Homo sapiens: one gene and its partners. The protein of the gene in region 1 purifies or fractionates together with the protein of each later gene. This does not show direct contact. Each region holds a gene or a part of one and is shown in the gene's direction. Other genes may lie near its edges. The genes, in order: SMC3, REC8, NIPBL and WAPL.

Region 1 (7,775 bases):
CACAGTCAAAATGGATTTTTTTCTCTTTTTTGAGATGGAGTCTCACTCTGTCACCCAGGCTGAAGTGCAGTGGTGTGATCTTAACTCACTGCAACCTCCGCCTCCTAGATTCAAGCAATTCTCCTGCCTCAGTCTCCCTAGTAGCTGGGATTACAGTTGCAGGCCACCATGCCTGGGTAATTTTTGTATTTTTAGCAGAGATGGGGTTTTGCCATGTTGGCTAGGCTGGTCTCAAACTCCATTTGGGTTATATAAGCCCCAAATTGTAACTGCCCTTTTGAGTCACATTTCTTTGTGAACTCCCACATGTACGTATGTGATTAAAATCTGCTTTTTCTTTTGCTAGTGTGTCATCCAGGCTGGAGTGCAGTGGCACAGTCATGATTCACTGCAGCCTTGAACGCCTAGGTTCAAGCCGTCCTCCCACCTCAGCCTCCGGAGTAGCTGGGACTACAGGCGATCGCCGCCAAGCCTTAAGCTCCTGTCCTCTTATGTTCATGGATTCCCCCCACTCCACACCTCACCCATAAACATAAAAGGGCAGAGGAAAAGTTTCTTTCTCCTCAACGCTATTAGGACACATTCATGCTAGAGGTAATCAGTAAATATCTGTTCAATGAATGAATGAATAATGGGGGGTGAGGTGGTCCCAGAGTGTTTGGTCAGTTTTCTCCTGGCATTTTGATCTTTCAGTTTAGCTCTTTGCTGTCTTTTCCCAGGGATTTGCTGACTACAAGTTTGGCTATGAACTAATAACAAAAATAGCTAACACTATGTCTTGTGCCAGTTATTTTAAATAAATCATCCTAATTTACCTGCAAGGAAATTTCCATAGATATCATTAAAATCTTTACTTATAGATGAGGAAACAGGCTTCAGGAGGTTAATCTTCCCCAGGTCATACATCAGCAAGTGATAGAGCCAGGATGTGACCCGGCTCTCCCAAAGTCTGACCACTGACTGTTGGGGCAAATGTCTATCTGCATCTTTGCTGCCTGGAAAGGCAGAGAATATTCCCATTTTATCTACAGAAAGTCACATGGTAAAATGACATGTCCCAACTCATGGAATTTGTCAAATGGAGTCAGCATAAGACCCTTGGGTTTCCAACCCAATGCAAAATAAGTACCCTTGCTCCTCACAGCATCAGTGAGAAAAATCTAAGACAGACCATACACATGATAGCACTTTGAAGCTGGGTGAGGAGCTACACAAATATACGGGATTATGATTGTTGTGTGTCTGTGCTTTGAGCATTAGAGACTCCCTTCTTAAAGAGACTTATGATTAGTGTCTCTTTTTCCCCTCCTCCCACTCCAGTGTGTCTAAGTGATCATGCTGAATCAATCTGAGGTGGGGTTGGGGGAGAGAAATAAAAACACTGAGGAGGTGATGCCATGTGTTGTTAATGGGATGTTTAGATGTAAAATGATGTTACCAAGCAAAAAGGGCTCAGTGCTTGATGTGCTAGAAGCCAATACTATGATACCGGGTTTTTGAGAAAAGAAAAGCTTTTTATTGCAAGTTGACTAAAAAGACAGGAATCCAGCTCGAATCTGTCTCTCTGTGCTAGGTTTAAAGCAGTAATTTTATTAGAAAAAAATTCATGGGTGGATTCTGGGATTAGTAGGTGATTGGCGGAAGGAAAGCGGAGGTCTAGAAAGTGCTGAGGCATGCACAGTTACCTCTTCATGCCACCACATGGATCATATGTCAAACTCGGGGAGTTTGTATGAACCATGCACTGGAAATTCAGGCTGTGATGTTAGCAAACCATTCTGCACAAACTCCAGTTAGTCATGTTGATTGCAAGCAATTTCAGTCAGTTTTTTAATATTACAAGTGGAGGGAGTTTCAGCAAGTTGTTTCTTTTCTCATCTGCTATCCTGCAAACTCAAGAATTTGTTAGTCACAGACTTCTTTAACTCTTTGGGGCACTGTTTCAAGGCTGCAGTTCTCCGTTGTTTAGCTATGAGCTAGTAGGCACTGTGCGGCTGGCATTCTGCTTTATGGTGGCAATTTCTTTCAGGAATGTCCCTTTGCTTCCAGATAGTTCATAGGTTTGAATAACTATTTATCCTGGCTAAAGGAGATCAATATGTTCGACTCCTACGTACTTACCAGAAGAGAATGATGCTCCTAAGGGGGATGAAAGGTGGGTGGAATGGGGACATAGGGAGCTTTTAAACACCAGTAGCTGGCATATGTAAGCCCTGCACGGTGGTAAGTACTTTGCTTCTGTGCATTTTTCACTCATAAATATATACTGAGTACTTTCTGTGAATTAGTTACTAAGTAACAGCAGGAACAAAATGAAGTCCCTTCTCTCTTGGATTTATATTCGTGCAGAGATAGACAATAAATACATAAATATAAATAAAAGCATTACATTCTCAAAATCACCTTTTGATTATTTTAGGTTTTTCGCTGATCTTTTTTTCTGCCTATATAAATTATATAAGCTAATTGTATAAGCTTCATTTAATATGGAAAAGCCTAAGGAAGAAAGTAAAACTCCCATCACTGTGAAAGCCATTCAAATGTTTTAGTCACCATCTTTTCATATTTTGCCTACATATGTATAAACAATTTTAGGTAGATAGGATTATCTTATACATCCTGTTTGTAATTCTAAATATGATGGAGTTTTATCATCTTCATTTTATAGACTAGGAAGTGGAGGCTTAGAATTTTTTTTTTTGAGACAGAGTCTCGCTCCATCACCCAGGCTGGAGTGCAGTGTCAGTCTCGGCTCACTGCAACCTCTGCCTCCTGGGTTCAAGTGATTCTCCTGCCTCAGCTTCCTGAGTAGCTGAGATTACAGGCGTCTGCACCACGCCCAGCTAATTTTTGTATTTTTAGTAGAGACGGAGTTTTGCCATGCTGAGCCTCCACTTCCTAGTCTATAAAATGAAGATGATAAAACTCCATCATATTTAGAATTACAAACAGGATGTATAAGATAATCCTATCTGCCACGTTGGCCAGACTGTTCTGAAACTCCTGACCTCAAGTGATCCACCCACCTGGGCCTCCCAAAGTGCTGGGATTACAGGCGTGAACCACCATACCTGTCCTAAGCTTTAAATAATACAACTAAAATCTAGAAGTAAAATGTTTAGATTGAGTGCAGTGGCTCATTCCTGTAATCCCAGCATTTAGGGAGGCAGAGGTGGGAGGATCGCTTGAGGCCAGAAGTTAGAGACCAGCCTGGGCAACATAAGGAGACCTGGTCTCTACAAAAACAAAAAAAAGCTGGGCTTGGTGGCCACAGCCTGTAGGCTGAGGTGGGAGGATGGCTTGAACCCAGGAGTTTGAGGCTGCAGTGAACCATGACCGAGCCACTATGCTCCAGCTCCACCCTGGGTGACAGAGCAAGATCCTGTCAAAAAAAAAAAAAAAAGTTAGAAATAAAGAAAAGAAAATGCTTACATATTTATTTAATTTATTTTGAGACAGTCTCGCTCTGTTGCCCAGGCTGGAGTGCAGTGGCGCGATCTTGGCTCACTGCAACCTCTGCCTCCTGGATTCAAGCAATTCTCCTGCCCCAGCCTCCCGACTAACTGGGATTACAGGCACCCGCCACGACGCCCAGCTAATTTTTGTATTTCGAGTAGAGACGGGGGTTTCGCCATGCTGGCCAGGCTGGTCTTGAACTCGTGACCTCAGGTGATCCTCCCCCCTCAGCCTCCCAAAGTGCTGGGATTACACGCTTGAGCCACTCGACCAGGCCTATTTATTTTTTTAAACCAAGGGCTGGATAGGATTTGATCCGGGCTCCAGATAAAGGACTCCTAGGGAGATACCCTGGTTAGCAGAGGCAGTTAGGAGGCTACTAAAAATAGTTCAATCTAGAAATAATTAGGGCCAGAATTGTCTCCAGCAGCGGGCGGGGGTGGGGCTGGGGATGATTTGGGTAGTTATTTTGTTCTCTTCCCAGCAAGTAATTTCAGAGCAGCCCAGAGATTCATTTTCTAAACAAATGATGTTTTTCTCCCAAGACTGACAAGGATCAGACAGACCTAGGGTTGCCACTAGCACCTAGTATCTTTCAGGCTGTTTTCTTTTGTTTTTAAAGTGGATTAAAAGCTTTCAGCCTTACCTAAATCTTTGTTGCAATTGTACAGATCTGCCTAGATTTATAGCAGATGGTAGAACAGAAACAGTTCCCGACGGAATTAATCATCACATTATTAAAACAAATTTTCGAGCATTGACAAATCCCTTCGGGGTTGTCCTCCGAGTGGGCAATTCGTAACCAGCTTGGGGCGTGCTAAGATTGTAAACGTTCCTATGGAGAGCGATAACAAAGGGGCAGCAGTGACTCCGCACACAGAATTCCAAGAATCACCAGCATTCCATGTGTTCCAAGGCTAGCACAGTGCGCGCGAGGTCCGCTTTTTTAAACAGCGCGGAATCACGTGGCCGACAGCCCGCGGCGCTACTGGCCCTCGGAGTCTCCCTCTTGGCTTTGGCGCGGAACCTTTCCCCCTTTGTGGACGCGACCATTGGCCCCGCGCTCGGAGGTGGTACGGACCAACCCTACGGTCATAGATTTTCCGAGTGAAGCTTTTGACTAAGTCTCAGGAAAGCGTTAGCTACAGAATTCTAGATTCAAAAGAAATCCACCAAAAAACGCTGTGGAGGACTGGTTTTGCCTAAAAGAAAGAGCAGACCTGAACTTGACTCCTCCTACGCCCTGTGAAGGCTGCAAGGTGGTTCCGTCCGAGGCGCGGACTCCGCCCCCACGAGCGCCGCCATTTTGTTTGGCTGAGGGGAGCGAGCGGCGCTTTGGGGGAGGGGTCGCGTAGGCGCCTCACCTGACCCTGCGGCCGTGCGGTTGCTGCTCCGGGGCAGGTCTCCTTCCAGGCCAGGGGCCCGGAATCATGTACATAAAGCAGGTAAGGCCTTCGCGTCCCTCCACCCCGTCATGGGCCGGTAAGGGCCGCTCCTTGAGGCGGGAGTGTTGCGGCGCCACCCGCAGCCTCTCCCCTGTCTCCACAGGCTGGACCAGGGCTGGGCGGGGACTGTGGGGGAGGAGGGAGACCCGGGTCCCGCTAGTGCCCCGGCTGCGGGGTCGCGGAGAATTGGGGCACTCCTTTGCAGCCCCGGCCTCCCTGCTGGCGCTTGTCTGGGAGAGGCAGGATCTCCGAGAGGTGTGGAAGGGCCGGCGGGCGGGCCGCTGGGAGGGACTGGGCCTTCCTGGGTGGCCCCAGAGCTGGCGGGGGGCACCCCGCCGGGGCGGCCGCGGGCGGGAAGGGCTGTGTGGTCCTGCAGGGGTGGCCTCACACGGCCCATGTGCCTGGGATGTGTGGAAAGGTGGCTTCCCCGGCCCGGGGGCGGCCCTGGGGGCATTGGCTGGGGTGTCGTCACCTGTCACTGCGGGGAGCCGTTCTTCTCCCCAGTTAACCCGCGAAGTGAGCGGGACCCTCCTGCTTGCAGGATACGGAGCGCCGCCTCCCTCGGTTGTTTACTTCTGTCAAAATGGTCTTCCCGCGCGGGACTCCACCACAAAGATGAGCCCAGGCACACGGCCTTGGAGACGGTTTTCTGTTGGGTCTGTCGGGCTCTGAGCACTCCTTCTTTGGAACGTGGGTTCTTTCAGGCTGGCCGGCGTGAGTGACTGAAAGCAGCACTCGGTGGTCTTGGAGTCAGGAGAGCTGGGGCCCGTCGGCCTGCTTTTATAGACTTGCTATTGTACTGCAGCGTTTAGGGTTCAGTTAAGCTCACACAGTGTTTTTGATTTTGAAAGGTCCTTAACAGGTTGACAGCATAACTCCTAAAAAAAAATAAAACCCAGCAGCATTGCCTTGGCAAAGATTACCGATAAAAGTACCTTTTTTTTTTTTTAGCAGATTTTTAATCACCACTTTCCAAAATGAATTTTTCTTATATGAAATTTCGAGTTTTCTATATTGCATTAAATGAAAAACAAGAAAGAAATGCAAGAGAAAAATGTTAATTTTTTTTGTGGGGTGGGTTCTCAAAAATGTTTTTTATTTACTAGGTGATTATCCAGGGTTTTCGAAGTTACAGAGATCAAACAATTGTAGATCCCTTCAGTTCAAAACATAATGTGATTGGTAAGTGTTCTTGGTTTACTCGGTCATATTTATAGTCTATACAGATAATGTAAATTCTGTCCATTTCTATATTGGCTTAAGGAGACAGGAATTGTCTTTGAATATTAAGTTATATTTTTCTGCGTGAAATAACTTTTCTGTCTTATTGCACTGATGAATTGCTTATTTTTATAAACTTAAAATGTTTGGATAAGACACTCATAAGTTATCCATTTTTTATCTAGGTAGCCTTGTATGTGTGTGTAAGAGTGTTTTAAAGCATTTCCGCTCTTCTGTTCTTGTTATATATCCTAGTGAAAATGCTGACTGTTGCCTTATTTCAGAGACAGACAATTTTTATTCACAAAGTAGATGCCAGGATTCCCCCCCCACCCCGGCAGTCAGTGTCTCTAAGGACAGACCATGTAGCTAGATTGGAAGAGCATAAACTTTGGAGCATAACAGAATGGGGTTCAAATCCCAGTTATAGGGGGGTGGGGGCCTGGGGGAGGGATAGCATTAGGAGAAATACCTAATGTAAATGTCGAGTTGATGGGTGCAGCAAACCAACATGGCACATGTATACCTATGTAACAAACCTGCATGTTGTGCACATGTATCCTAGTATAACAACAACGAAAAAAAAAATCCCAGTTGTGGCACACGTTCTTTTTCACTTTCTGAGAAGCTTCAGTTTTCTCATTTGTAAAGTGGAGATGATACCTGTCTCATAGGGCTGTTGAGAAGATTAAATGAGAAACCTTATGTAAGTGTGAAGATAAAGAGCTAATGGTGATTGCCATTAACAATATGTAGTCATTATAGATTGCTCAGATTGTAGTGTGCATTTTGCTGATACAGCTAACAAAAATGTTTTCTGACACTCTGCTGAGTATTTTACAGGATAGATGAAAGGAGTGCTTCTGGACACCAGAAACACAGACTGCTGTTGACACAGTTTTGCTGTACAGAGTCCAAACTAAGTGGTGTATTAGTTTGCTAAGGCAGCCATAACAAAATACCATAGACTGGTGGCTTAAACAAGATATTTTTTTTCTCATAGTCTGGAGGTCAGACATCCATGATCAGGATACCTGCATGGTTAGGTTCTCGTGAGGCTCTCTTCCTGGCTTATGGACAGCTGCTGTCTTGCTGTGTGCTCACATGGCCCCATCCTCATGTCCTCATTTAACCATAATCATCTTCCAGGGGTCCCCATGTCCAAATACTATCACATTCGGGATTAAGGTGTCAGTTGTTTCAGGGTGTCAGTTCAATTCAGTCTGTGGTGCGTGGGTGAGATTCACATTACTAATGTTTCCAGAAGACCTTTAGAGAATCATACTTCATTTTGTATAAAATGATAAAATTGAAGGCAGGTTTTTTTGCCCTCGATTTATCAATAGCAGCCTTGTAGTTGGGAATAAAGAAGGCATACTTTTTTTTTCCCTGCTTGTGCTCTGTCTACTGAAGTCATTTAATTGAATTGACATGCCATAGGGTGGCTTAATTGTACTGGGGTTTTGCTTACATATAAGTACTTTCTGATTTTTTTCATCAATCAGAAAATCTTTAGAAATGTAGAAAAATAAGAATTATTAGATTTCTGTTTTCTTTAACTTGCACCTTAAAATAAGTACCTTAATATTTCATTTGTGTGATTTTATAAATGATCTGTAACTTACTAGCTAGAATGATTACATTTTGTCTATA
Region 2 (7,273 bases), on another chromosome or scaffold:
ATCCCACTGGGAAGCCAAGCACCTAGACATTCTCTGCACTAGCAGTGAAGAAATGAGGTACTGAATGCAGAGGTGTACAAACCCTGTTGTGCCCTCAATGTGATGCAATGTGATGAAATCCTTCCTGGACCTTCTTTGTACAAGGTCTAAATTATCTCCTTGACTTCCATTTTATTTTAATTATTTTGATTAAAAACAAAAACTTGGCTGGGCATTGTGGCTCACACCTGGAATCCCAGTAATTTGAGAGGCCGAGGTGGGTGGATCACCTGACGTCAGGAGTTCGAGACCAGCCTGGCCAACATGGTGAAACCCCGTCTCTACTAAAAATGCAAAAAATTAGCCAGGCGTGTTGGTGGACACCTGTAATCCCAGCTACTTGGGAGCCTGAGGCAGGAGAATCGCTTAAACCCAGGAGGCGGAGGTTGCAGTGAGCCGAGATTGCACCACTGCACTCGAGCCTGGGCAAAAAGAGCAAAACTCCATCTCAAAAAAAAAAAATTTTTTTTTTCGGCTGGGCGTGGTGGTTTATGTCTGTAATCCTGGCACTTTGGGAGATCGAAGTGAGAAGACTGCCTTAGCCCAGGAGTTTGAGACTAGCCTGGGTGACATAGTGAAACCCTACTTCTACAAAAAATTCTTTTTTTTTTTTTTGAGACAGAGTCTCACTCTGTTGCCCAGGCTGGAGTGCAGTAGTGCAATCTTGGCTCACTGCAACCTCCACCTCCTGGGTTCAAGTGATCCTCCTGCCTCAGCCTTCTGAGTATCTGGGATTACAGGTGCGCACCGCTATGCCAGGCTAATTTTTGTATTTTTAGTAGAGACAGGGTTTCACCATGTTGGCTAGGCTGGTCTCGAACTCCTGACTTCAGGTGATCTGCCCACCTCAGCTTCCCAAAGTGCTGGGATTACAGGCGTGAGCCACTGCACCTGGCTCCCAAAAATTCTTAAAAATTAGCCAGGTGAGGCCAGGCATGGTGGCTCACACCTGTAATCCTTGCACTTTGGAAGGCCCAGGTGGGTGGATCACTTGAGGTCAGAAGTTCGAGACCAGCCTGACCAACATGGTGAAACCCCATCTCTACTAAAAATATAAAAAAAATCAGCTGGGCATGGTGGCACATGCCTATAATCCCAGCTACTTGGGAGGCTGAGGCAGGAGAATCACTTGAACCCAGGAGGCAGAGGTTGCAGTGAGCCAAGATCGTGCCATTGCATTCCAAGCCTGGGCATCAAGAGCGAAACTCCATCTCAAAAAAAAAAAGTGGGGGAAAAAAAAAAGCCAGGTGTGGTGGTGTGTGCCTATAGTCCCAACTACTTGACCTCCTAAAGTGCTGGGATTACAGGTGTGAGCTACTATACCTGGCCTCCTTCCGTTTTCTATCATACCCCACATCCAATTCATCAGCAAATCCTGTCGCTCGCTATTCCTTCAATATGTATCCAGGGTCTGACCACTTCTCTCTGTTCCCATCAGCAACACTTTGGAACAAACTACCACCATCTCTCATGTCTCCTCCTCTGCTTCCTTCACATCTGTTTCCACACGTGTCTACCTTAAGCTATTCTCAACACAGTAGAGATTCTTTTCACATGTAATTCTGATCATGTCACTCCTCTGCTCAGAACCTTCCAGTGGGTCCCAAATCACCCAGGGTAAAAGCCCAAATCCCCATAAGGACCTCTGAGGTCCTGTGATGCGACCCTACCCTCCTCTCTCTCTCTCTCTCGCCCCTTGCCATTCTTCCCCTGTCACTTTGCTCCAGGCTCCTTGAACCCACCAAACACATTTCTACCTCAGGGTCTTTGCATTTGCTGGTTCTTTTGTCTAAATTACTCTTCCTTCAGGTAGGCACATGACTTACCCACATTCTTCAAATTTTATCTCTTAAGAGAGGGGGCAAGGCTTCCCTGAGTACCCTCCCTAAATAGCAGCCGTCATTATTCTATCCTCCTATGCTGCCTCATTTTCTTCATAGCACTTACGGCCACTTCATGTATTTCTTTTTTTCTTTCTTTCTTTTTTTTTTTTTTTTTGACAGAATCGCCCATGCTGGAGCACAGCAGTGCAATCATGGCTCACTGCAGCCTCGACCTTCGGCTCAATCGATCCTCCTGTCTCAGCCTTCTGAGTAGCTGTGACTATAGGCATGTAATTTGAGAGGCCGAGGCGGGTGTCACCTGAGGTCAGGAGTTTGAGACCAGCCTGGCCAACATGGTTGAAACCCTGTCTCTACTAAAAATACAAAAAAATTAGCCAGGCATAGTGGCACATGCCTGTAGTCCCAGCTACTCAGGAGGCTTAGGTAGGAGAATTGCTTGAACCCAGGAGGCGGAGGTTGCACTGAGCCAAGATGGTCCATTGCACTCCAGCCTGGGCGACAAGCAAAATTCCATCTCAGAAAAAAAAAAAAAAAAAAAAAAAAAAAACTCTCAAATTGAAGGGGACTGTAAGAAGATAGGGTCAGCTCAGCTGCAGTAAGATATAAGTCTCAGGAAGAAGCATGCTCTGGAGTCAAGGCAGAGAAGGACATTCTAGGCCAAAGAAATGGCTGTGCAAAGGTAGGAGGCATAGGGACAAGGGTTATTATTACAACTGTACCTCTTAAATTTACACAATAATTGTTGAGAATATGGCTTTTCCAGGCTAGGAAGTTGTGCTGCATCCAAAAATGCTAAAGTCTATTTCAGCCGGGAGAACACTGACAGCTGGGAAAGGACCACACGTGGCGTGCCCATAACCTAAGTTGTTCAGATTTAGGAAGTGACCCCAGTAAGTCCTTTCGGAGTTTCGTGTAAGATTGACTTCTTCAGCTGGGGGCAGTGGCTCACGCCTGTAATCCCAGCACTTTGGGAGGCCAAGGCGGGCGGATCACCTGAGGTCAGGAGTTCGAGACCAGCCTGGCCAACATGGTGAAACCCCTGTCTCTACTAAAAAATACAAAATTTAGCCAGGTGTGGTGGTGGGCGCCTGTAATCCCAGCTACTCGGGAGCCTGAGGCAGGAGAATCCCCTGCACCGGGGAGGCGGAGGCTGCAATGAGCTGAGACTGCGCCACTGCACTCCAGCCTGGGTGACAGAGTGAAACTCCATCTCAAAAAAAAAAGAAACCAGCCTGGCCAACATAGTGAAATCCCGTCTCTTCTAAAAATGCAAAAATTAGTTGGGTGTGATGGAGGGCGCCTGTAATCCCAGCTACTCAGGAGGCCAAGACACGAGAATCGCTTGAACCTGAGGGGATGGGGGGCAGAGGATGCAGTGAGCCGAGATTGCCGAGATAGCGCCACTGCATTCCAGCCTGGGCAACAGTGAGAGCCTCCATCTCAAAAAAAAAAAAAAAAAATGGACTTCTTCCTCATTGACCTGTGGTGGCTCCAAGGCCATCAAAAAAAAAAAAAATGGACTTCTTCCTCATTGACCTGTGGTGGCTCCAAGGCCATCATCTCACAGCCTTTTTTTTTTTTTTTTTTTTTGAGACGGAGTCTTGCTCCCTTGCCCAGGTTGGAGTGGAGCTGCATGATCTCGGCTCACTGCAACCTCCGCCTCCCAGGTTCAAGCATTCTCCTGCCTCAGCCTCCTGAGTAGCTGGGATTACAGGCGCGTGCCACCACGCCCAGCTAACTTTTGCATTTTTAATAGAGACGGGGTTTCACCATATTGGTCAGGCTGGACTCGAACTCCTAACCTCATGATCCGCCCGCCTCGGCCTCCCAAAGTGCTAGGATTACAGGCGTGAGCCACTGCGCCCGGCCTCATCTCACATCTTTCTTCCTCTGCAGCACACGACACGCCCTAGTTGGAAACAAAGTCGGAGTTTGTGGATTGGGGGAAGGGCGGGGTCTAACCTCAGGTCAGGCGCCGTGCAAGGTACATCTTGGCACCCGGAAGAGGCCCAGTACAGTTGCCCCCGAGGTGACCCGACCTCCCCTACCAATTGAGGCGCCCTTGTTGCCAGGCTTGCGGCGGGGGAGCGGCGGGGGAGCGACGGGGATGCGCTCATTGGTCAAGGAAGGGGCGCCTGTTACTAGAGGCGAGAACCGGAGCCCATTGGTCGGAACACCTCACAATGGACCCCAGCGGCGCGCAAAATCCTTATGATTGGTTTGCTGGCTGCCTCGGGAGACCCTGTTGCCAGGATACTTGGCGTTCCCGACCCGACCCCCGTTCCCCATTGGCTGTCAGGGCAAAAGCCGCCATCTAATGAGGAGCGAGGTGCGGTGCCCCGAAGCGCTCGCTTCCCGCGGTGCGATCTAGTCCTGCAGTAGGCGGCCCGGGGCCACACCGCGGCCGCCCAAGCCAGTGCAAGGCCCAGGGGCCTGACATCGCTCCCAGCGCTCGAGGACCGAGGCCTGCTGTGGAGGACACCGTGCTCCCTCGGGACCTGCTCTGGATTCCGGCCCGGACGTCCCCTTGGAGCTCTGCATCTCCAACCTGGAACCCAACCCAGAAGTCTCAAGTTTGACGCATCACGTGGCGTGCGGATCCACTGAGGGTCCACAGAGAGGGGCGCCCATCTCCTGCGTCTCAGTTATCCTGGTAATTGTGTATCTGCCCATTGTTCGTTGCCTCATTAACTTGGCTTTCTAGGTGCACCCACCTTGCCACCAGAGAAGTCCAAATCCTGACTTCTCTCCAAGGTGTTGGGAATTCTGTGCCCTAAAGAATTCCGACTCAGATCCGAACGGGGATCTGGTGGAATCGAGGGTGAAAGACCAGAGGGACAATGTTCTACTATCCCAACGTGCTTCAGCGCCACACCGGCTGCTTTGCCACCATCTGGTAAGGGCGGGGCCCGTTGGCGCGCGATGGCGGACGCTGCCCGGGATCCCAGCCTGACAGCTCCCCCTCCATCCCCATTCTCCCACCTTCCCCACCCACTTCAGGCTGGCGGCGACTCGCGGCAGCCGGTTGGTGAAGCGCGAATACCTGAGGGTGAATGTGGTGAAAACCTGGTAAGGCCCAGAAAAGGGAAGGAGGGCCTGGTGCGGGGGGTGAGTTAGGGGATGGGGTGGCCAAGACTGTGGGCCCACTCCTGGACGCAGCGGTAATCAGGGCGCATTGTTCCCCAGCGAGGAAATCCTCAATTACGTGCTGGTACGAGTGCAACCCCCGCAGCCCGGCCTGCCGCGGCCCCGCTTCTCCCTCTATCTCTCAGCCCAACTTCAGATCGGTGTGATCCGCGTCTATTCTCAACAATGCCAGTACCTCGTGGGTAAGGCTGGGAACCCTCAAAGGTGGGGCGGGCTGAGCAGCTGTCTGCTAAGCTGGCTGTCTACCTCGTCCTCCCTGCCCACAGAGGACATCCAGCACATCTTGGAGCGCCTCCACCGTGCCCAGCTGCAGATCCGAATAGATATGGAGACTGAGCTGTGAGTGTGCCCTGGGCCTTTGATGGAACACCTGCTAGCTTGGCCTCAGCCTGGCTCAGCCTCAGTCCTTCACGGCCTACATTCTCTCCCAGACCCAGCCTGCTGCTTCCTAACCACCTGGCCATGATGGAGACCCTAGAAGATGCTCCAGATCCCTTTTTTGGGATGATGTCTGTGGATCCCAGACTTCCTAGTCCTTTCGATATCCCTCAGGTAGGGCTCATTCCCCAAGACTCGTGAATTGGCAATGCAGAAGGGGAGTGCTGTCCCTGTGTCACTCTGACATTGGGGTTGGGGAAGGAAGCTTACCACAGCTCTCTCCCACAGGAGATGGTGCAGGGGGACTGCCAAGGTGGACCCATCCAGGCGAAGCCCCCTGTACTTACCTACTCAGGGCCAATCTGATCAGACGGTTTCCCCACTGGAGGCAGCTCTTGTCCCCACTTGTCTCCACACTGTTTTCACTGCCAAGGCCCTAATCCAGGCTCTCATCTCTCTGCACTGGGCTTTCTTACCCCTGTCCTCCTCCATCTATTCCCAATACTCCTACAGCTTAATGTCACCCCCTTCCTTGGTTCCCCATTTGAACAGTGGCTCCTGCTGCAAACAGATTACTAGCATTTGGGGCTCTCCATGCCCCATTTATTTCTTTTTTTATTTTATTACTATTATTATTATTATTTTTGAGACAGGATCTTGCTCTGTGGCCCAGGCTGGAGTGCAGTGGCACGATCTCAGCTTACTGCAACCTCTGCCTCCCCGGTTCAAGCAATTCTCCTGCCTCAGCCTCCCGAGTAGCTGGGACTACAGGCATTTGCCACCATGCCCAACTGATTTTGTATTTTTAGTTGAGACAGGGTTTCACCATGCTGGCCAGGCTGGTTTCGAACCCCTGACCTCATGATCTGCCTGTCTCCTCCTCCTGAAGTGCTGGGATTACAGACATGAGCCACAGAGCCCGGCCCAATTTTTTTAGGGTTTCGCCTTATCGGCCAGGCTGGTCTCGAACTCCAGACCTCAGGTGATCCACCCACCCTGGCTTTCCAAAGTGCTAGGATTACAGACGTGAGCCATCGCGCTGGCCTATTATTATTATTTTTTGAAATGGAGTCTCTGTCACCCAGGCTGGAGTGCAGTGGCATGATCTTGGCTCACTTCAACCTCCGCTTCCTCTGGTCAAGCGATTCTCCTGCCTCGGCCTCCCGAATAGCTGGGATTACAGATGCCTGCCACCATGCCCGGCTAATTTTTGTATCTTTAGTAGAGATGGAGTTTCATCATGTTGGTCAGACTGGTCTTGAACTCCTGATCTCAGGCACTCCACCCGCCTCGGCCTCCCAAAGTGCTGGGATTACAGGTGTGAACCACCGTGCCTGGCACATACCCCAGTTTAGAACTAGTCATCCCCAGACTTCTCTCTCAGTCCTCTGGGCATCTGTGGCTCCTAAACACTAGTTTGGCCCTTATGCCTCAATGATGCCACATTCACATCTTTGCTTGTACTGTTTCCCTAGCCCATAATGGTCACCCCTCATCCTCTACAAGTCGGGTTCTACATATTCTTACAGACCTGGCTCAAATGCTGCCCTTCTCTATGAAATATTTATCCCAGTCTTAGCCGGAACCAAATGCAGTTTGGGAACTCAGTACTTTGCTAGGGCCTTGTTTTACCCTTTGCCTTGACTCTTGTGGGGTTACATACAACCTTGTCTCCCCACTAGACTTCCTTAAGATCAAGAATCTTTTCTGTTCACCTCTGTCAACCACAACACTTGCCAAGGATAACGATGCACTGCTGCTTGCACAAATTTTTTTTTTTTTTTTTTGAGACAGAGTCTTGCTCTGTCACCCAGGCTGGAGTGCAGTGGCTCAATCTCAGCTCACTGCAATCTCTGCTTCCCAGG
Region 3 (6,964 bases), on another chromosome or scaffold:
GATGAAAAAAGGCATCCATGGGAAAAGAACTGTTCATTTCTATAATTTTAACAAAATAGATAATCTATGTTGAATAAAATCCATAAATACTATTTCCAAATTTGATTAAGGTATTTACTTTGAAAACCTGAAACAGGAACATATTTACAGTGTTAAGTGATTTGATAATTTTGTAGTTCTGCCCTAAAAATCAATATCCTTAATTAACCCTTCATCAGTTTCTTAAGTCATCTGTCATCCTGAAAGCAAGTTAATTATTCTAAATGTTAAATAATTTTGGTAGTGTCTAATCTATAAAACATACATACACTACCAGTTTTTTTTCTACCTTTAACAAATTCGTTCCCATAAAAGACAATTTTATCACTAACAAAGGATAACTGGCAGGCATAAAATAGTGAGTAGAAAATGATTTTCTAAAATTTTTCATTTCTATCATTTTATAGCAAGTTGCATTTATCTTAAAGATAAATATTCTTCAATAAAAATAACAATTCAAATTTTTCAGTTGTAGAAATTCCTGGTGATGACATTTGATACAAATAGTTTATCCCTGAAATCCATTTAAAATTTTTAATCAAATCTTCTGCAATTCATTGATCAAGAATACATACGAGACTATCCAGGGATATTTCTAGCAAAGAAAACTGAGTCATGCAACTCAGTTCTTGAAGCAAGGAGGCAATTTAAAGTCAGAATAAAGGTTTACTGGGCTATCCTCAATGGACAAGTGGAGGATGTAAGTCACCTGATTTGGAACATAAAAGACTTAAAAATGTAAGAGCAAAACAAATGGATGGTATTGGGAAAAATAATTATTAAGAAAAAAAAACCCAAGACAATGAAATGAAGAAAACACTAATATTAGATTAACAGATTCTATGTAAGATCTCAACTTGGATACTTAAATTTATGCAAGCAAAATACCATTTGATTTAATAGAGAAATACTGTGATATGAATTGAAACAATTTCTTTGATTCTATAACCTGGAAAAAAAATGGTATAAACTATATACAAGTTAAAACCCTCAAAGGCAGTGTTGTTTTCATTCACTGCCATGCATGAGATGTCTAGCATAAAGCTAATTAGCGCCTAATAAGTCCTCAATAAGGGAAGAAACTAAAAAAACTTAAAAATTTTAAATTAAATGACACAATAATGCCAAGACTTTCCAAAGCAGATTGACTGTAGCAGCTGCAGTTACCTGGACATGCAAAATTACTAGTTTACCAGTAACATTTAAGAAAGCAGACAAGAAGATAATTGTGCTTCTATTAGCGAATTGAAATAATGGTATTTTGAAACTGAGTGAAAAACACATTCTGAGTCATCTGTATTAACTTAAAGCTGTTCTGAAGATTAATGGGAAAAATAATAATGAATAGACGATTGGATTTACTAAACAATGTTTGATTAATTGTATTAATGGTTATAAAATACCTATCAAGGCTGTCTTTTCTTGTCCAAAAATTCAATACATGAAATATGAAAATTTGTAATACCATAGCCAAAGCCTTATTGCATAGCTTCTAGCTTACTGATATATTTACTTATTTTAATTTAAAAAGCCTGTTTTTCCAGCCACTAGGAAATAAGATTTCTCACGTTTTATAGTACTCAAAAATCATGATTAAGTATATCTAATGCTAACCTAAGTGTAAGCAAACAGCAAACTAAATGGTGAATTAAAATATCCACACCAAGCCTGACCTCAGCTTTCATTGAACCTTTTCTTCAGAAGAAAACTAAAAATAAATTTCACTAGCATTTGCTTTGCTTGACAGCATAATTGAGTAGCAACCAAAGTAGCCACATGTGGTCCTTTATGTAAGGCCTTCTAGCCTCAGAAACACACACCTTTTGAATTAGCGTGCCTGGTACCCATTTGTGCCCAATAAATACTTGCTGAATGAACTTTTCCAATAGTGCTGGATTTGCTCTGAGCCAACCAAATTCTCACTTTTAATGTATTTTGAAAGACAGAGGACGACAAGATGAAGAATGCAGTTTGAGACTCAGAAGAGCAAACATAATCGGCCCAGTATGGATATGATCATTTGATGCACTGTCCTCGGGCATGCTCATTTACAGAAGCCTAAAAACAAATTTTATCCCTCATTTGTGGGTTTCTGGTGTTGTGGAGGGCTTTCCAATGTTTAGAAGCAATATATTTTTATAGAATTCTGTAATAAACGTGTTTTAAATCTTTTATAAAGCTCTCTGTAGCATATAAGTACATATTAAAGACAGAAATGGGGGAGCATCAAGGCCCTTATAATCGCATTCATTCCTTAACCACATACTACGCATCTACTGTGTGGCATTCTAGGCGGGGGCCGTAACACCAGTGCAGAAAAACACAACCTCTTGTCCTCTTAGAGCTTACATTGCACTGGGGAAGGAGAGATAAGAAGATAAACAAGTATGGATATGTAGACTGTCCAAAGGATAAAATGAGAAGGGGGCTAGGGAACTTTCAGTTTAAAAGTAGCCGCGGAAGCACCGAGTGACACGAGCAAAATCCTGAAGGTGAAGGAGCAAGCCCTGTGGACGACGCTCAGGGAAGAGTCCTACTCGCAAGGATGCCAGGGCAGGCCCGCCCCCACCCTCAACGGCGCGCGGGGACTTCTGCCGCAGTCAAGGCTTTGGCTCACTCCCCTCAAGACGGGAAGCCATTCGCAGGGCCTAGAGAAAAGGAGTGACAGGATCTTGGCCCCCTGAGTGGCCTGAGGCAAAAGGAATAATCTAAGCAAGTTTTCCTACTTACTTTTAGCGCACTGGTACACACACAAATACACAATACAATTCATATAACACGAATTTCGTCCCGGTTGAGTAAAATTCCGCTTACCTACTGCACTTTTTACCGAAAATAGCCCCTTTTTAATTTACACAAACTTAATAGAGAACGGTGGAACAATGGTTACTTCTTGTTTTACAATTTAAAAACTACAACAACCATAGTACTGTACGTATAATCACATATTGTATTCCAGCCTTGTCCAGCGCCTCAGTTTTCCGAACCTAAAGAGGAAAACGATGTTTGAAATCAGCTGGCCGCAGGCCCGCGGGTCGCCCGCAGTCACCGGTGGCTGAGTCGGGGCCGGCGGTTCTCCCCGCGCGCTCGGCTCCACCCACACCTAGAGGGGGGCGCCCGGGCAGCCGCGGGCGAGCTTCTCGCTCGCGCAGCGTCGCCTACAGGCCTTTATCCTGACCGTTAGAGAAGAACCCAAACCTCTGCCGACAAAAAGCAAAAGCAGCGGAGACCGCGTATTTCCAGAAATAAACGCATCATCACAAACACGATTCCAATTCAATCCAGCCGACAGTCGTCTTCACCTCCAAAGGTTGCGTTCTTATTCGCAGAAATAACACGCAGTCGGGCGTAAGGTCCCGGCTCTCAAAAGGCAAGGTGTACGATCCATCCATCCACCCGGCTGCAGGGACACCATTTAAAACGGGCATCATCGCCATCGAATCGCGGGCGTCCTCTGTGGGGCCGCCCGGAGATCGGCTCCCTAAAGCTAACGACGACCTGGGACAGCCAGCGCGGCCTCCAGCCGCCGCCGTCGGCGACCTGAGAGCCCGTCCGGGCCTGAGTGCCCCCCACGCTCACGACCACCACCGAACTCGGGCCCCGCTCCTGTCGGCCTCCAGGAAAATAAAGACAGAGGAGAGCCGGCCCGCCTGTGTCGCAGGGCAAACGTCGCTCTGAAGCATCGACAATACTGGCAACATCCACAGCCGCCCTGAGGGGACGGGCGTAGAGGAGAGCTGCCGCCTCCCGGCTGCTGGGCCCGGGTGCCGCGCGGCGCGGCCGAGGACGCGAGCCCAAGTGGCGGCAGCGGCGGCTGCGGCGGTGGCGGAAGTGGAGTGGGGAAGAGGGGGTGGTTGTTAGTGTTTGGCGCCGGCGGAGGGAGTCATTCCTGCAGCTGCACTTCCGGTCGGCATTTTGTTCTGAGAGGGAGAGACGGAACGAGAGAGAGACACACACAGGGCTCCTTCCCCCCGCCCTCCCCCCCCTCCCTCCGTCGGTACCGACTCACCCGACACCACCAAGCCGCAGGGAGGGACGCCCCCGCCGACAGGAGAATTGGTTCCCGGGCCCGCGGCGATGCCCCCCCGGTAGCTCGGGCCCGTGGTCGGGTGTTTGTGAGTGTTTCTATGTGGGAGAAGGAGGAGGAGGAGGAAGAAGAAGCAACGATTTGTCTTCTCGGCTGGTCTCCCCCCGGCTCTACATGTTCCCCGCACTGAGGAGACGGAAGAGGAGCCGTAGCCACCCCCCCTCCCGGCCCGGATTATAGTCTCTCGCCACAGCGGCCTCGGCCTCCCCTTGGATTCAGACGCCGATTCGCCCAGGTAAATTCCTGCTCTTTATTTCGGCGGCGGCGGCGGCGGCGCCGGCGCCAGGTCCTCAGCGTCTCTCCTCCTCGCTCCCCTCCCCGCCGTTTCCTTAGCGGCCCCAGGTCTCTTCCACAGGCGAGTCTAGAGTTCGCTCCTCTCTGGTGGCAGCCGCCTTGGGTAGCGGTGGTTTTGTACCCTCTCCCGGCCGGCTCCGGTGGCGGGGACTGGGCTCCTGCTGGGCGGCCGGGGAGGCGTAGGCCCGGCGGAGAGTGCAGGCCGCGGGCCAGCGGAATCTACTTGAGCTCGGGGATTAGGAGAGCTCCGGGCTGAGCGGAGCGACTGCTGGTCGGTGACAGGCCTCGCCCGGGAGTGGAGCCGTAGCTAGTGGGGAGGCGGAAACAATACAACTAACAGCAAATGTGCCCTGATCGTCCCCATATTTACAACTTTCCCGGTCCGGGAGTGGGGAACGTCCCAGTGAAACAAACAACCTCCCTTCTTCCCCCTGTGACCCCATGAAGGGAGGAAGTAGTTTCAGTTAGTGAGACAAACGTAAATACTCAGACGCGGATCCAGTGGTAATTCTTTCTCTTTCTAAAACTTGTTTGGACGTTGGAAAGTTCATAAAGACTCATTTTCTTTTTTAAAGAATTAAATCGTCCACATGAATATTTAATACAGAAAAACATACTGTGGTAGACACTGCACATCTCCCCCTCCCCAAGAGCTTTTATCTTGTTGTTTTGACAGTGTGTTGTTGCACATGGACTTTTTATTCAAAGACAAGTATAAAGTACTTGACAGGTTTACTCTGCCACTTTCTATTTGTATGCGTTATGTAAGGGCAGTTTTAAGCGACTATACGTAAAACACTCAGGTACTTCCTGACCAAAACGTGTAGGAGCATACAAAGAATTTTAAGTGTTCTGAGAATTGTGCTGAGATACGGGTAAAACCACTTTTCTTTTCTTTTTCCAAAAAAGAAATTAAGTTATACTTAAAATCCTTGGGAGGTTAAAAAATTGTAGAAGGTGCCATCCTTTTATGTCAGGGCAGTTCTTCTTGAGGTCCCAGGATTGTCATTGGCTGTTTGTGCCATGATGTTTGACTGTGTAATGAGAGAGGTGTCATTTTAATAGGTTAAATGTATCTGTAAATGCTGGAGAAAAATATCAGTTCTAACTTGACAAGTTCTAGTTCATGAGTAAGTTAAGTGTTTCGAGCTTGTTTATGGAGGCGTTCATAATGTAGGTTGGTATAAGGGGGAAACACCAATTTAAAATTCCTCAGTCAGGCAAATTGCTAGAAAAGTGTACCTGGGTTACACGTTTTGATATTTTGTTTCATATTCGCTGAAGGAAAACTTTCATTGGTTAAAATGAAGCAGCACTGCTCAGCGAAATCCCTTGTTTTACTAGTGTTTGTTACATTGGTTCATATTTTTTGTGTCATTAAATTATTGTCACTGTAGAATAAGTTATTTTGTGGAGGTTATTTTTGAGTTTAGCGTCCTGATTACAATAAATTGTTTCACATTTCCTGCAAACGTACGGATAAATGTTTAAAAGAATGAAGTTAATATAGCTGTCACGTACTAGGCATGTTTTTAATGCTATAAATCCGTGTAGTAGTCAGTAGCGTGTCCGTGATTTGTATTGGTCAGGGAGCAGTTTGAATTTTAAAAAGCCTGAAGCTCCTGCTGAGCCCCAATCCCGGCCTCCCTCCCTCCCACTAATCTCCCATTCCTGTCTTTGTGCTGCCTGCTCCTGTTAGACACTGTTTGCTACGGGGCCTCAGGCCTACTGCGGGTGGGGGGGTGTGCGAGTGGGGGGCATGCCAGGGAGGGAATGCAGACGGGAGGAATACTTCACATCTTAAGAAAGCAGAGGGTTTGTTTTTTTGGGGATGGAGGTGGTAAGGGCTTCATTATAAATGTTTAAAAGGCCTTCATATATTCCTGTGATTGTCTCTACAACTTTTATTTCAAGGGATAAACATATTTTTACTAAAGATAATAGAGGAGTTGTGCTTGCTTAATTTTCACGAACTGAAGCAACTTATTTTTAGAGGTTGTCTTATGCAGATGTTTGAATAAGTGTGTTAGAGATGGGTTTATGTGATTGATTCTTTTTTTTCCTGAGACTTTGGAATTGTTATAGTGAATTAGTTCTTCCCAACTTATTTTCCCAATTCTACATATTTAGTAATTTGTGAGTAATATAGGTTGTGTGATAGCTTTCATTATGATAGCATAAACATTTCTTTAAATTTAAAAATATGTTTTGTTTGGTCCAAACCAATTAAATACGTCATTTTTAAAGGAGAAAACATTGTGTAAAATTCAAATTGTAAAATTTAAACTTGAACTTTAAATCTCTGATAACCTAGTTGGAGAGAATAGTTTGTTTCCCTAAAGAGTGTAGAGTGTTCTGCTTCCCCTCTGTTGGTTGGAATATTCACTAGTGGCTAATCATCTATTTCCATTAAAAATTAAAATTCAGTGAAAGGAGAAATCAGAAGTGTTCCAGTAACCTTATAATCCTAGTTATATTATTTGGAGAAATATTTTCTCATACACCTAAAGGAAATTTCAACAATGTCGCTTATTGTTTCTCTTA
Region 4 (7,052 bases), about 24 Mb from region 1:
ACCATCTCTACTAAAATACAAAAAATGAGCTGGGTGTGGTGGTGTGCGCCTGTAGTCCCAGCTACTGGGGAGGCTGAGGCAGGGGAATCGCTTGAACCAGGGAGGCAGAGATTGCAGTGAGCCGAGATCGCGCCACTGCACTCCAGCCTGGTGACAGAGCGAGACTCCGTCTAAAAAAAAAAAAAAAAAAATATATATATATATATATATAATATATGTATATAATTTTACATGAAAGAAGGAAATAAATGGGTGCTTTTATTCAACAAATATTTATTGAGCACCTACTCTTGTGCCAGGCAGTCTTCTAGGTGCTAGGGTTGCAGCAGAAAACAAGACAGGCAGAGATCCCTGCCTTCAGAGGGAGCACAACATTTAAGATAAACATGCAAAATGCCTGATATGTTAGATGGGAAGATAAATGCCCTTAAAGAAAGTAAAGCAGGGACAGTGACATTTAGGAGTGAGGATGTTGCAACAATTTAAGATAGGTTGGTCAGGGGAGATTCATTGAAAAGTCCCATCTGAGTGAAAACCTAGAGGAGAGAATTGAAGCAGGCTGGTATCTGGGGGAGTTGTAGGCAGAGGGAATAGGAAATACAAAGGCCCTAAGGTGGGGAAACAGCAAGGAGTCAGGTGTGGGCAGAGCAGAAAGTTGGGGCTGCATGAGCAAAGGGCAGGGCCTGGCCCACATCTCGTAGAGCTTTGTAATATAACCACAACATGCAAGTGTACAATTTAACATTTTATTCCACATCCGATGGCAAAGAAAAATTGACTGCTACCAATATGGTAGTTTCTGACCTGTAGTTCCCTAAATAGAATTCTATAAGTTGTAATACACTTTACTACACATTATCAGAAAAAGACTAAAAGTTCTATTTAGTAACTCCAATTCTGACAGTTCTCATGTCTGGGCTAGAACAAGGGCATGGCAATGGCAGAACAGATGTCTTCTATTTTCTTTGCAGGATTTTCTTTTTTCAGAGGAAAGTACAGGTATGGGCCCACTCAAGTGGAGCTCCAGGTTAGGGGGTTCTGTCCTCACCCAGGCAGCACACAGGAGGGCAGAGGCCCCTCCTAAGGGTACTACAAACTTGGCTCTGATCCATGATTTCAGTTTCTGACAAACACAACATTCAGTGGGGGAAAGAAAATCAGGTATCTGAGAGCTTGCACACAGGCATTCTAGCAAAACCAAAAGCACCTACTGGCTACTTGATGTTAGTGTGAAGATTCTCATGAAATGGAGACAACCATTCTAGGGGTTGAGGTGGCCAGGGGGATGGAGCCTGAGCTGAGAGAACTAAGAAAACAAAAACAATACAACAAAAAGCTGTTCAGCCATGTGTTACCCACACTGGAGTTCTGTTTGCTCATTCTGGTGTGGAACCCAGGGCCCTGGTAAGGGAATGAGGGGACTTCAGGGCATTTGCTTGCCTCAGTGGAAGCAGGGAGGTAAGGGGTTAAGGTGGTGGTACAGCCTGCAGGGCCAGGAGTCTGAACTCCCTCCAGGAGGGGCCCGAGGGGTGTCTTTAGTGTGAGCCACACAAGGGTACAGAGCCCAGAAGAGCTCTGCTTAATATTCATATACTAAGCTTCCACAGACTAAATACACACACACACACACACACACACACACACTCACACACACTTTACTTCTCAAATCATGTACCACTTTCTACCAGATTCAAGAACACCAAGAAGTACTAAAGGGTATCCAACCGTCAAGAAAAAGTTTGACTCCCTCATTAGTTGTAACATACAAGTCTTCCCATTTCCTTACTTGTAAGATAGAGTAATGGACTGGGAAGCAGACAAGGCCCCTGAACAGCCTAGCATCTTACCTGATGCATAGGAGGTTCTTAATCATCTCCCTTCCTCTCCCTCATCCTAACGAAAAATACTAGATTGCTGTCAAATGCTATGGGTATACTTTAAATCAGTGCTTGTCAAACTTTAATGTGCAGCCCAATCAGCTGGGGGAATCCTGTTAAAATGCAGGTTCTGATTCAGTGGAGCTGGGGTGAGGGATAGGAATTATGCGTTCCTTACAGGCTTCCAGGTGATGCTACACTGCTGATTGGGGATCATTCTTTGAGTGGCAAGAATTTGACACTACTAAGTTTCATTACTTAACACAACCATCACATAAAAGCCCTCAAAAGGCACCAGTCTAAACAATAAGCCCTTCCACTTCAGCCTCATGCAGGCACTGACCCTGCCAAGTGTCCAGCACTAGAGAGGCCAGGCATAATAGACATATCCTTTGGTCTTGGGAGGATCACGACACCCTCCTACAGGAAGATCTTGCAATTGTTTCCTCACCTCTTCTGGTTTTTTGATCTTACCTTTTGCCTCTGATGATAATTACCCTTTAATTACCACCCACCACCTTGTCATCTAAATAATTATAGTAAGTGCAGCCTGCACCTCTGCCAGAAGATCTTTAAACAAAATGATAAAAACAAGTTCCTAAACTGCCAATTAAAAAAAGAGACAAAACTGACCCAAATAAAACAGTCATGTGCATCCCACCCACAGTGGAAGACATGGACTTGTTTTTCATATAAACTACAGAAGAAGTTGATTTATTTTGAAACAAGAAAAAGTACTGATTCAGTATTTAGGAAATTGTAAATGTCAGAATATAAATTCTGCAGTCAGGTAGGCAAAACAATCCAACCACACTAAAATCCACCTTAAATTCCTCTTGGGAAGAGCTGCAGGGTCTCTGAACTATTTTTCCTTTATTTGGAGTTTCCCCGATTATACCGGAGGGAGCTGGATAACTTCTGGGTGCATTAAAAGCAAATTATCCATTTGTGGGAGAAGGGCGGGCTTCTCACTGAAAGCAATTAGTAGTTTTCTAATTTCCCAGGTGGGTCTCCATTAACCGCCTAACAAACACCAAGGCTGTCGGAGTCCGACGAATCATGCACCTCTCTTAGGGGGAACTGGTTGCGCTACTCTTTAGAACGCTGTTTTCCCATGGTAGCCTTAAAAAAAACTTACCAATTTTCTGAATTAGGTAACACATTGAATGGGAAAAACCTAAGATAGCACAAAAAGGCGTACAGCGAAAAATTAAGACTCCTTCCTCCCGTCATCCGCCACCTCACTGTCCTCCCTAGAGGCAATCGCTGGTTCACTTCTTTAAACTTTTTATTATGGAAAATTTCAGATACACAAGTAAAGAGACTGTATGATGAGCACATATGCTCGCATCACGCAGCTTCAACGATGAAAAACGTTCTGCCAGCTTGTTTTATTCCTCTCCCCCAGTTTTCATAGGCGTATTTTACAGTCCTGACACCAGATCACTCTGTCAACACATCAGTAGGTCTTAAAAAAAAAAAAACAAAAAACCATAACCACATTACCGTTACCACACCCAACAAAGTTAATGATAATTGCTCAATACCATCCAATATTCTCGGGGCCACTTTCAATCGGTGAGGGGCAGACGGACTTAGAGGAAGGACTGCAGGGCTGGAGGGGCGCGAAAAAGCGAGGGGCGACGCTGCTCGTGGCCTCGGGTGTCCGGCGCCTCGCGGTCCCCGCCATCGTCACCTACGCCGGGCCAGGACCGACCAGGCCAGGTCGAGGGCGGCTCTTGACCACGCGCCCCCTGCCTCCCAGCTCCCGGGCGGCGGCCTCCGCAGGCCCGGCACAGCTGCACAGCCCGCGGTCCCCAGGCACCGGCGGGTCCCTGGAGGGGAAGCGATTGATACAGCTGCCTGCACTGCGCCACCCGCCCGGCTGCCCATCTCCGTGGCACCTGCGTCTCCCGGCTGGGCCGGGAGCTAGAAGTGGCTGCCGAGACCGGGAGGGCCCGGCCAGTCGCCCGCTCCCGCTCCCGCGCCTGGTCCTCGGCCCGCGACCTCGCGGACCTGGACTACAACTCCCGTCGGGCTCCGCGGCCGGGCCAATGGCGGGCGCCGGAGCATGCGGGGCGCAGCGCCTGCGCGGCGGTTTGAGTAAGCGGCTGCGCGATTGGCTGCGGGGTCGGGCGGCCGCGCGGGGACTGTGGGAAGCGGAGTGACGGAGCGAGCGGCTGTTGGAGGAAGGAGGTGGGGGCCGGGAGCGCAAATGGCGTTGAGATGGTTCAGGGCCCTGTTCAAACTCCAGCACTGACCATTCACCGGCGGAAGCGGCGGCGCAGGAGGCGGCGGCGGCCCAGCGGGGGCACACAGCAGGCTCTGTTACCAGCTCCAGCAGTGGCGGCCAGCGAGAGCTAGGCCTGGGCCCGGCCGGCGGCGCTCGAGGCGGGGAGGGAAGTTGCGGGGCCGCCGCTCCTGCCCCCCCAACCGGGCTTCCTATTTACCGAAAGCAGAGTCCCTCGCCTCTCTCGGCTCTCACCTGCCGGCCCTGCTCTCCCGCGCGAGGGTTCCGCGCCCGCCCGCGGGCCGTAGGGAGCGGGAGAGGCGGAGGCGGCCCGTGGCCAAAGCACCCGCCAGGCTCCGAGGGTAAGTGAGGTGTCGGGCGGCCGCCTAGGCCGGGAGGGAGCCGGGAGGGTGGGGGAGGCAGAGGCTGGGAGCGGGCGGTGGAAGTCTCACTGCCTCGCCCACCGGGCCGCTGAGGAAGTTGGGCAGGGGAATGACCTGAGGAACTCTTTTTTTCCCCTTTTATTTTCCTTTTTCGGAGTTCTTTTTCGGGCGACTGCTGATTGACTTAGCTCCCCAAACCCAGTCAAGTGTGTTGATTTCAGCCCCGAGTCCTTTCCCGTGGTTTCATCCGCCTCTGGCCGCCACTGGGGCCTTGCACTGCCTTAAGGATTCGGTGGCAGAGGCTTCCGGGGCGTCGAAAGTGACCTCCCTTTCCTGGGCGGCGCGGGTTGGGAGGAGAAAAGTTGCATTGAGTGTCTAGTCCGAGGGGTCCATCGCGCCCACTGCCCGTGGCGCCCCGGCTGTCCCCAGGTGAGGATTTCTGGTTAGTCAGGTTCGTCCCGTCCGCTTTCCATCTTTAATGGAAGCCCTTAAAGCCTTTGGGGATCGGGAAGACGCTAGATTAGGGTGGGAGTGAAGTATAAAGGCTTTTTGCTTTTTTTTTTTTTTTTTTTTTTTTAAATCACAGCGCACTTCTCTCAAAATTCGACCTGATTTTGGGCTAGGGCAAAAGCCGAACGACCGAAAAGACTTAGTCGTCAATCATTCTTTCCTTTTTAGTTAGGACAGTCTTTGGAGTTTAAAGGTTGAGCAAGATTGTGTACTTGAAACACTTAAAATTTAACTTCAAGGACGTCTGCACACTTATTTTGGAATCTGTAGTGCTTTACGCTTAGATAATGCCATTGCAAAGACATTTTATTGTGGGAAACGATAAAGGCAATCAGGAGGAGATATTATATAATGAACTTCTCTGTACCCATCGCTTGGATTTAGCAGTGACTATTAAACAAATTTATTTCATCTATACACTTCTCATTCCTTAATGTTGGAAAATCGCTGACGTTATTTCATCAGTATTTCACTATGTATTTGTAAAAGACGTGGTCTTTTGGCACAAAATTATTATTATCATTATTATTATTATTTTGAGACGGAGTTTCGCCCTTGTTGCCCAGGCTGGAGTGCAGTGGCGCGATCTCAGCTCACCGCAACCTCCGCCTCCCAGGTTCAATTGATTCTCCTGCCCCAGCCTCCGGAGTAGCTGGGATTACAGGCATGCGCCACCACGCCCGGCTAATTTTCTATTTTTAGTAGAAACGTGGTTTCTCCATGTTGGTCAGGCTGGTCTCGAACTCCTGGCCTCAGGTGATCTGCCCGTCTTGGCTTCCCAGAGTGCTGGAATTACAGGCGTGACCTGCCGCCCCCAGCCAGCACAAAATTATTTTTTATCACATAAAATAATTAAGTCCTTAGTGTCAGGTATTCATCTGAAGACTTCAAACTTTCAACAGTGAATGCTTTGTGGTTATAGAACCATTTTAACAGTTTTTCTGATGTTGGCATAAAGGAACTCAAGTCTAGATTTTTGGTTTGGCCTTTGGTTAGTATTTTTAGATGATTAGCACATAAGTGAATCCAAAACATTCCATCTTTGTTGGTGTGTATGTGTACGTACACTTACAGACCTGCAGGATCTCAGCTTTACATTCTTGAAGGAACAGAGAATCGATTTTTATTTTGTTGTCCGTGGTAGTTGCCCAGTATCCTGTTTTGTTTAGGCTGTACTTAACAAGAAAGACAGTAAGACTTGTTAGTGTTAGAGCTGCAGTGGAAGATGAAATACATCTCCTTCAGGAACACTGTTTTCTCTTAACGCAGATATGTATGATGACTAAATTATTACCTTGTCAAATTAAAATTGGGTTCTCACCAAACATGGGGGGGGGTCTACTACTGAATTTATATAAAACTCAGACAGTGACTCATTATAAATGGTAAGAATTTAAGTTAATCAAGGGAAAACAAGTGTAGATCAAAACATATTCAAAAGTATAGGTCAAATATAATTTCAATTCTTGTAGCTTTCAAAGTAATGATTTTTCATTCCTTAGGCCCTTGTTCACTTTTTAAAGTTATATTCGATGTATTCATGTTTGAACTGTAGAAAGGTCAAAGTGTTAGACAAACGGTTACTGATTGATCATGTTTAAAAAGTACTATAACTTTTTAATAGGCACAGAACTAATGCAAGTAACTTGTTTTAAAAAATGTTTGACTCTTGATTTACTGCCCTAAAGATTTTTTTTTTTGTCCTGTGAAGTAGATAAATCAGGTGAATCGATTTGCCATTTATAAATTGAAAAGGAAAATAAAAGTTGTATGTTTCTATGTCTGTATTAATCCATGAAACAGTGTAATATGCTGGAGCTCACTAGCCCCAGAAAATATAACTCAGCAAATGAGCACAGCACTATCGGGACAAGGCAGATAGGATAAGGATAGTTTCTTTCCCTAGGGAGATGACCATCTAAGGAACATTTTTAAAGTCACAGCGCAAATTACATTACACCAAGAAGCAGAATCTTCAAGATTGGGTTAAAAGCTGCAGGTTGTAAAACATGAGAAAAAGCACCATTTTGGGGACCTTTTTTCTCATGTGAA

Evidence for each region.
Region 2: the proteins of SMC3 (region 1) and REC8 purify together in Homo sapiens (affinity purification with mass spectrometry; 3 studies listed by BioGRID and IntAct, with this or other methods). This does not show direct contact.
Region 3: the proteins of SMC3 (region 1) and NIPBL purify together in Homo sapiens (affinity purification with western blotting; 4 studies listed by BioGRID, with this or other methods). This does not show direct contact.
Region 4: the proteins of SMC3 (region 1) and WAPL purify together in Homo sapiens (affinity purification with mass spectrometry; 7 studies listed by BioGRID and IntAct, with this or other methods). This does not show direct contact.

Annotation. Positions count from the first base shown.
Region 1 is NC_000010.11:110,562,931-110,570,705, forward strand, and holds the start of SMC3 (structural maintenance of chromosomes protein 3), read left to right. Parts: upstream 1-4,764; 5' UTR 4,765-4,886; coding exon 4,887-4,901; intron 4,902-6,007; coding exon 6,008-6,083; intron 6,084-7,775. UniProt on the Homo sapiens protein: Central component of cohesin, a complex required for chromosome cohesion during the cell cycle. The cohesin complex may form a large proteinaceous ring within which sister chromatids can be trapped.
Region 2 is NC_000014.9:24,167,830-24,175,102, forward strand, and holds the start of REC8 (meiotic recombination protein REC8 homolog), read left to right. Parts: upstream 1-4,250; 5' UTR 4,251-4,723; coding exon 4,724-4,779; intron 4,780-4,883; coding exon 4,884-4,952; intron 4,953-5,069; coding exon 5,070-5,212; intron 5,213-5,296; coding exon 5,297-5,369; intron 5,370-5,461; coding exon 5,462-5,582; intron 5,583-7,273. UniProt on the Homo sapiens protein: Required during meiosis for separation of sister chromatids and homologous chromosomes.
Region 3 is NC_000005.10:36,872,818-36,879,781, forward strand, and holds the start of NIPBL (nipped-B-like protein), read left to right. Parts: upstream 1-3,951; 5' UTR 3,952-4,361; intron 4,362-6,964. UniProt on the Homo sapiens protein: Plays an important role in the loading of the cohesin complex on to DNA. Forms a heterodimeric complex (also known as cohesin loading complex) with MAU2/SCC4 which mediates the loading of the cohesin complex onto chromatin.
Region 4 is NC_000010.11:86,518,782-86,525,833, reverse strand, and holds the start of WAPL (wings apart-like protein homolog), read left to right. Parts: upstream 1-4,041; 5' UTR 4,042-4,469; intron 4,470-7,052. UniProt on the Homo sapiens protein: Regulator of sister chromatid cohesion in mitosis which negatively regulates cohesin association with chromatin. Involved in both sister chromatid cohesion during interphase and sister-chromatid resolution during early stages of mitosis.